2 linked regions of the Homo sapiens genome follow. The protein of the gene in region 1 interacts with the protein of each later gene in a pairwise test. Each region holds a gene or a part of one and is shown in the gene's direction. Other genes may lie near its edges. The genes, in order: CDH11 and ATF7IP.

Evidence for each region.
Region 2: the proteins of CDH11 (region 1) and ATF7IP interact in a two-hybrid assay, tested with the Homo sapiens proteins (one large-scale study listed by IntAct).

The regions. Positions count from the first base shown.
Region 1 is NC_000016.10:64,985,846-64,989,673, reverse strand, and holds part of CDH11 (cadherin-11 isoform 1 preproprotein), read left to right. Parts: intron 1-1,329; coding exon 1,330-1,517; intron 1,518-3,828. UniProt on the Homo sapiens protein: Cadherins are calcium-dependent cell adhesion proteins. They preferentially interact with themselves in a homophilic manner in connecting cells; cadherins may thus contribute to the sorting of heterogeneous cell types.
Region 2 is NC_000012.12:14,372,139-14,375,966, forward strand, and holds part of ATF7IP (activating transcription factor 7-interacting protein 1), read left to right. Parts: intron 1-3,828. UniProt on the Homo sapiens protein: Recruiter that couples transcriptional factors to general transcription apparatus and thereby modulates transcription regulation and chromatin formation. Can both act as an activator or a repressor depending on the context.

The DNA.
Region 1 (3,828 bases):
CCATTCCCCACAATGGTCTATTTTACGCAATTTGGCCTCCACTTCCTTACAGCCCTTCTCTCTCACCAGAAGGCTGTAGTCACTCTCCTCCTCTTGCTCCTCTGCAAGTATTCAGGATCTTCTCACCTTAGGGTTTTTGCCATTTGCTAATCACCTGGCTGGTAGTTTTTATCCTGCAGATATGCACGTCATTGTCTTCCTCAGTCATTTTAGATTCCTTTTTCTAAAGAATGTCTTCTCCTACCACACTACGCAAAACCAATCTCTCCCTCTTTCTGCTTATCACCCACACATTATTAACACAAGCATGCGTGTTCAATCACACTCATACACATACACAAACTCACTCACAAATAGCTCACATTCATACACACACTCACACTCTTACACAACAGATTCATGCCCACACAATCACTCATGGCCACTCACACATTTACCCCCTCACCCTCACACACAATCATGCACTTACACACCCACAACCACACACCCACTCTCAGAACCCTCACCCTTTTACCCTACTTTATTTTCCTTTTTCATTGCAGTGACATCAGAGTGTGTTTACATTTGTTTTTATTTTTTCTCTTTAGTCGGCCTCATTAAGAGAGGAATCTTGACTGTTTTGTTTAGTAGTAAACAAAACAAGCAAACAAAACAGTGTCCTGGCACTAGGACAGTACCTCCATGTACAGTATTAGGCTCCCAATAAACATTAAATAAATATATAGGAGGGTCACACTGCAGGAAAGCCTTCTGGAGAAGGTAACGCATGACCAACTTGTGAAGCAGGCAAGTTGCGAAGGAGGTGAAATAAGGGGAGTGTCGAATATAGAGTTAGACAGGGAGGGATGTTAAAGTTTGCATTTTTAAAGTAACTATGGAGCTGTTGAAGGAAGGCTTTTAAACAGAGAATTTTTTTTTTCTGGGCTCTTCGCAATACCATAAGTGAGCCTTGGAGTTAACTCATGGACCATCCTGAAGACATGAAAAGAAGCTTCAGCTATTTTGCTAAATGAAGACATGCATGGTTCTCCATCATTACCTGATGGGAAATGTAACAGAGCATTGTTTTTCTCCCTTACATGTGGCAGGTGACCCCAGCATTTCACCTGGACCCAGATATTGTTTTATCACCCTTCGTAGAACACATTCTTTTGACAAGCAGGCCATGTGGGATCCTCCTCCCCACATCCACTCACTTCTTTCATGTTTTCAGTCAATAGAAAGTTCAATTTCAAATCCTTTGAGAAATTTATTGGGATTCAATGAAATCTATAGTCTTACAGCTGCCAAATAAAAGAGAAAATAAAAATAGATGTCTTCTTCTTCTAGGCGTATACCAGATGTCTGTGTCAGAAGCAGCCGTCCCTGGGGAGGAAGTAGGAAGAGTGAAAGCTAAAGATCCAGACATTGGAGAAAATGGCTTAGTCACATACAATATTGTTGATGGAGATGGTATGGAATCGTTTGAAATCACAACGGACTATGAAACACAGGAGGGGGTGATAAAGCTGAAAAAGGTGAGTTAGGGTAAGGAATCAGACGTGTCAGTGGTATGGCCTGCTCTGCCAAGGCAACACTGCAAGAAACAGGGAGGCGACGGTTAAGAAATGAGAATTTGCGAAACCAGGGGCTGACCTGACTTTGTAGTTGAGCTCTGAGCTCTGGAAGATCACAGAATTGTATTCCTTTCTGTTACTGCAGAGAAGCTGACAAAGGGGCTGGTGATACCTGCCTGAGATTGCTAGTTAGTTCTTAAATGTTTTCCGATGGAGGGAAGCACAGTTCTCCCATGGAGGGAAGGACAATGAGATAAATCTAGATTTTGAAGAAGCAGCCCTGAGCATGCATGGAATTCCCCCCTTAGCTCTGCCACACTGAATCTGTTAGATAAGCTGTTCAGAACTCTTACTGTTTCAACATTCAAGATTCACTGCATTGCTGGACCCTCTGTGAAACTGAAGCCTTCTCTACTTGTTTTTATCTCAAGTGAACCTGGAGAAGCAACAATAATGGACCTTCTCCCCTAGTCAAAGAGCCTGTGGACCTCCCCTCATAGTCAGTCTCCAAAAACATGTATCTGGAATTAATTTATTACAAAGAGAAGTTTAGTGTTTCTTCTTTTTTACATGCGCTCAATACTGACTACTGGCCAGACACAGCACCATCCTCTTACAAACATCATTTCATTTACTTTTCACAAAAACAAACAAAAGTATGAAGTAGGTAGTGTTATCCCAATGGGCAAAGAGACCTCAACTTAATTTTGAGGAGATTGGGGCTCAGACAGATGAAATCATTTGACCCAGTCACTGTCATATAGCTCAGGCATGCCGACCTGGAATTCACACCTTAGTTATTCTAGAACAACTTCCCTCTCAAGACATTTTGAAAACAGCTGGCCTGGAAAGCGTTTGTAAAGAAGAGCCAGATAAGATTCACTTCCAAGTGAAGAAATAATTCCCGTACATTCTAAAAAGGTTTCCCCCCGTGATTTACCACTTGAGAAATCAACACCTCTCCATCATGAAAGTGTATGGAGCATTAAATCGGAATTGGAAGATGGGATTACCTTGGTTTTAATCAAGCGTTCATTTTCAACTTAGTTTTATAGCATGAATATTAAACTCCTTGGTGCGATGGAAAAGACTGGACTCTAACACTGATAGAAAATTAATTTGAAGCATCAATAAAGAGGCCAGTAGCTAAAGAGGAGGGAAGGACCAGTGGGGGAAGACAGGTCCTGAAAGGAATCTTTCAGGTGGGGGAGCAAGGAGTGACCTGTGCTAAGAAACTGACCTTTCACAGACTTTTAAAGTATGTTGGGGTTGGGGAAAATATTATAGAGCACAAAACAAAGAAAAGGTAGGGGGTGATTGTTATAAAAAAAGAAAGAAAATGAAGGATATGGAAATTGGGGTGAAATTTGGATACTTGGAAAAGTCTACATTAATGGATGAATGGTAGGACCGAGGAAGCCTAATTATCAACCACAGGGAGCTAGGGCAGTCACTAATTCTGGTTTCTCCTCTGGAAAAGTAGCTGTGTGAATTGTGTGTTGCCTAGAGCTGTCAACTTACTTCGTTAATTAATATTACTATCTCTTCTGCTTGACACTGACATATGAACATTGACATCAGCAATTCCTGCCTCCCATCCTTTGCTGTTCATGTAATTGGGTAGTTGGTTATGCTAAGGTTGTCACCTGTTTTTAGTGTATTCAGGGCATAAACACACACTGTATCTCTGAAATCCTGAAACATTTAAATCACCCCCATGGAACTCACACGTCGCAAATGAGCTCTCTGCATATGATTAATTTGCACATTTGCCTCCAATTCAGTGTGTTTATTCTAGGCAAAGGAATAATCTTCTATAAAGCACTGATGCTTAGGTTTTAAATAGTGTAAGATGTTATTGCATTTGTAAAAGAACATTTGCTCAAACTTCTAGCACAAAGTTCCAAATGTCCACCGGGGGAAAAAAAAGAAAAATTATAGATGAATTTAACAGAGTAAAAATATGACTCCTTGTGAAAGTCATTCCATGCAATTTAATACTGTAAAAGTCTATAGAGACATTATGGCAATATTTCTGCATTTTAAAGTATTTTTTAACTTAGTGTTTTTATTTATTTCCTAATTTATTCACCCATTTTTCCACCAAGAGTTATTGAGTTCTTACTATTTGTCAGGCAGGCCCTTTGCCAGAGGCTGGAAATCTAAAGTTGAAGAGGCAGAGTCTTGACCACAGGGAGTTCACAATTTAACAGGACAGTGAAGTGATACAATAATTAAAACCGAGAGGGTTTTCTCAGCCTTAGCAGTGTTG
Region 2 (3,828 bases), on another chromosome or scaffold:
CCAAGAGTATTTAAACATTACTTTGCCATGTTCTTTCTCAGATTGTCCTGCCATCCACAGAGTAAATCAGGGGCTCCTCCAGGCATTTTAATTTGTTGAAAACAAAGAAAATTAAACTTTTTATAGATGATTCAGCTTGCATGGTGGAAACCATTTTGTATTGGAGACAGAGAGTGAGTGCTGGGGAGCACTTTCAGTTAAGAATAAGTAGATCAGGGCTACTAGTGCTTGTTTATATGGTGTGAATGTTTCAATTTTAAATTTCGATCATTTGGAGTTTAGAATCTTTAAGAGGATGACTCAGGTACCTCAGCCACTTTTCAAAAAAAAAAAAAAAATACCATAGGCCTAAGGGAACAGTTATACCTTCCTGAGAGTCTTTATAGTTGGACCTATATGAATATGAGAATCTGGGAAATGAAGATGACTTATTAACTTTGCCATCAGAAATATGCACTTATTCATGTCTGCAGTTTTCCATTGCTCAGAATATTATAAGAAACATTTTGTGTTCTTTTATATCCAATAACTGGTAGTAACTAGCTGTATTTGGGAGAGAGGACCCCTTTGTATGATGGTGATGTGAGGTAGTAATGCCATAATGTCTTACTATATATGATCCGTTCTCCCTTTCTTTGTTGTTTGTATAGCCCTATGCTACTTTGGGGAAGTATTATCTGGTTTGATACCTAGAAATTATGTGTCCATCACTCTTGGCATTCTAATAATTTAACATTCTAATAAGAAATTTGATTTGTATGTTAGAATAGTTGTCCTCAGAACTGTCAAAGCTGTAAAAGGAACTTTCTTTGGTTCAGTAATTCTCAGTGATAATGCCTACCATTTTGTAGAAGGATAAAGCTAAAAAGATGGAAAGGGAATCTGCTGTTTTGAGGACCAGGAGAAAGAGTTTGATGGAACAATAAAGGATGACTTGACTGCTGCAGCTTATTCCCAGCTAAGGCTTTGGAGCCTTAGATGTATATCTGCCCTGTTACTCTTATTAGATAGAATGTCATAGGAAAAAGCATGTAAGGGAAAAGAGAGACTGCTTTTGAACTCTTTTATTTCCTTTTAGGTGGTAAATGTCAGAAGTGAATTCCATTAGAGTAAAAACTAAGCTGCCACAGTATAGGAGACTCCATTCCTGTTGTTTAAAGATGACACATGTTTTTTTCTCATGTAACCATACAAAGTAAGACTGTTTAGAGTTTGTAAGTGGTTTTGCCTTAACATATGGCTTCCATCACTAGGTGAAACATGATTACTCTCTAGTTTTACTAGCTAGAGGCAAGGAAGAAAGAACAATGGGAGTGCATATTCTTTCTTTTGAGAGCATGATATGGAAGTGGCACATAGCACTTTGACTCATGGTTTATGTGTGATCATTTAGTCATTGGGACATATTTAGCTGGGAAAGGAAGTCTGGGAAATATATCTAGCTGGATAATCATATGCTTAGCTAAAACTAGAGAATTTTATAAAAGAGAAATGGATATTAATGAATAGCATTTTCTGCTATATAAGGAATTGGGAGAAGTGGTCTCAAAGTACTTCATAATTTGGTACTGAAAACTATTTCTCTTTTAAGATTTAGGTTCAGTTATAGTATAACTGTATATTTTCCATTGAAATGGTATTTTGGGGGTTTTGTGTTCATGATTTGTGGTTGGGGTCCCAGTTATTATAAATATTTATATTTGATAGAATTCTTCCCCTCTCTGCTTGCCGTTGAAAACATTATGATTAGTTTTGCAAGAATTAGAATTTCAAATTTTTAAAACTCAGTGTAGTATTTTTGAACTTTACAGGTTAACTTGCTTAATTCAAAAGGACTGTAGATGAATCGAGTGACAATTGTTTGAATAGTTTATGTTTGCATTATTTTATCCAGATTTTTTTTTCTCTGTTTATAACTGTATGTATAAAATATACATTTTCCATGATGGAAAATATGACTTTTTTTTTTTTTAATTGAGACTAGGGTCTCACTCTGTCACTCCAGCTGGAGTGCAGTGGTGTGATCATGGCTCACTGTAACCTTGACCTCCTGGGCTCAAGGGATCCTCCTGACTCAGCCTCCTAGGTAGCTTGGACTACAGGCACATGCCACCAAACCCAGCTAATTTTGTAATTTTTTTTTTTTTTTTTTTTTGTGGAGATGGGGGTCTTGCCTTGTTGCCCAGGCTGGTCTTGAACTCCTGGGCTCAAGCAATCCTCCCCTCTTGGCCTCCCAAAATGTTGGGATTACAGGTGTGAGCCACTGTGCCTGGCCGAAAATGTGACTTCCAAGGGCCTTGTAATATACACAGGTAAAAAGATTGTGGTTGTAAATTCTCTGCATATAGGCAAAACTTACCTGATTAATAAGTAAGTAGTTAAAAGTAGCTTTCTACAGAATATGACAAGTAAAACAATATATATTTTTGTAGGGTACAGAAAGTGGTGAGAGTGTTGGAAGGAGATCAAGGAGATTTTATGGGAGTTGTATTTTAAGGAATGAATTAGACAGATAATACTAGTAAAGAGAATAAATAGTATGTTCAAAATCTTAGAGCCAGAAAGGAAGGTAGTGTGTTAGGAGAACTCTTAATAGCTCTGTGATACAAATCCTTGGTTTTTGTGAATAAAAGTCATAGTTGCCATGGCACCCACATAGTATGCCTATTAAAGCATGTTGTTGCTCTCAACTGGAAATTCTCTAATTTTTCTTTGCTTTACTTCATATATTTTTTAAAGGCATTTATTCCTTTCCACTTTTATATTTATAGTTATTTGTTTTTTGTGTAGTACTTTATAAGTTTCCTGGGGTTAGGAATCATATCTTATTGATATATCTGACAATTTTTTAAGACAAATCCTTTCTAATAAGGTATGATAAGACCACTATTAAAAGTGTAAGATTGCTTTCCACCATGCCTTGCTTTCCACCATGCCTCCCTTAATATTCAATAAATACTTGCTTATTGAAAGAATAGAATTCCTTCGTTTTAGGTGGAGGTGAAAAAAAAAAGGGAATAAGATATTCTAATTATTTTCTTTTATTTAACTCATTATCCACAGATGTCAGAACTTTTTTTTTTTAATCAAACATGTAATTTACTCAGATGGCAAATACCCACATGATGAATTGTCATGGGAAGATTTGACAGGCACTTTACATATGAAAAATAATAAATAGTTGCTTTTAGGAAAAACAGTTTTCAATGTCATCCATTAAGAACCAGTTGCTTGTTAATAAAAAGTTTCTAAAATATGACTGTGAAGAACCTACGTATGTAAATTAATAAGGGTTTGAGGAAAAGATGGAATGATATAATTATTTTGTATTTTAGGTTTGTATAATCCTCTTCCCCCACCAAACTTACTTTAAATGATTTAAACATTGAAAGATAAAAATAAATAAAAAAATGAAGAAAGAAAAGAAGAACAAAAGAAAAAACAAAAAATTTTCCTAAAATCAGTTAGTTATACAGTGAAGTGGAAAGAACAGTAGTTTTGTATTGGGACCTGGGCAATTAGTGTCTCCTCTCAGTGTTCTTTATCTTTAAAATGTGGTGTTACCACCTACATGGTAGTGTTGTGAGGGTTAAATATGATTAGATATATAAAATGCTTAGCATCTGTGCCTCACACATATCTCTAGCTTTAATCAATTGGTGAATCAATTAGTCAGTCATGAATATTTATTAAGAAGCAACTATGTGCAGGGAGCCCTGCAGTACAGGGAGATTTATGAAAATAATATTCTTGATTTCTGGAGCTAGAATGTAAATGCATTTAAAAAGTAACTTGGAAAGGTCGGTTTCATATTACCACTCATTAGTA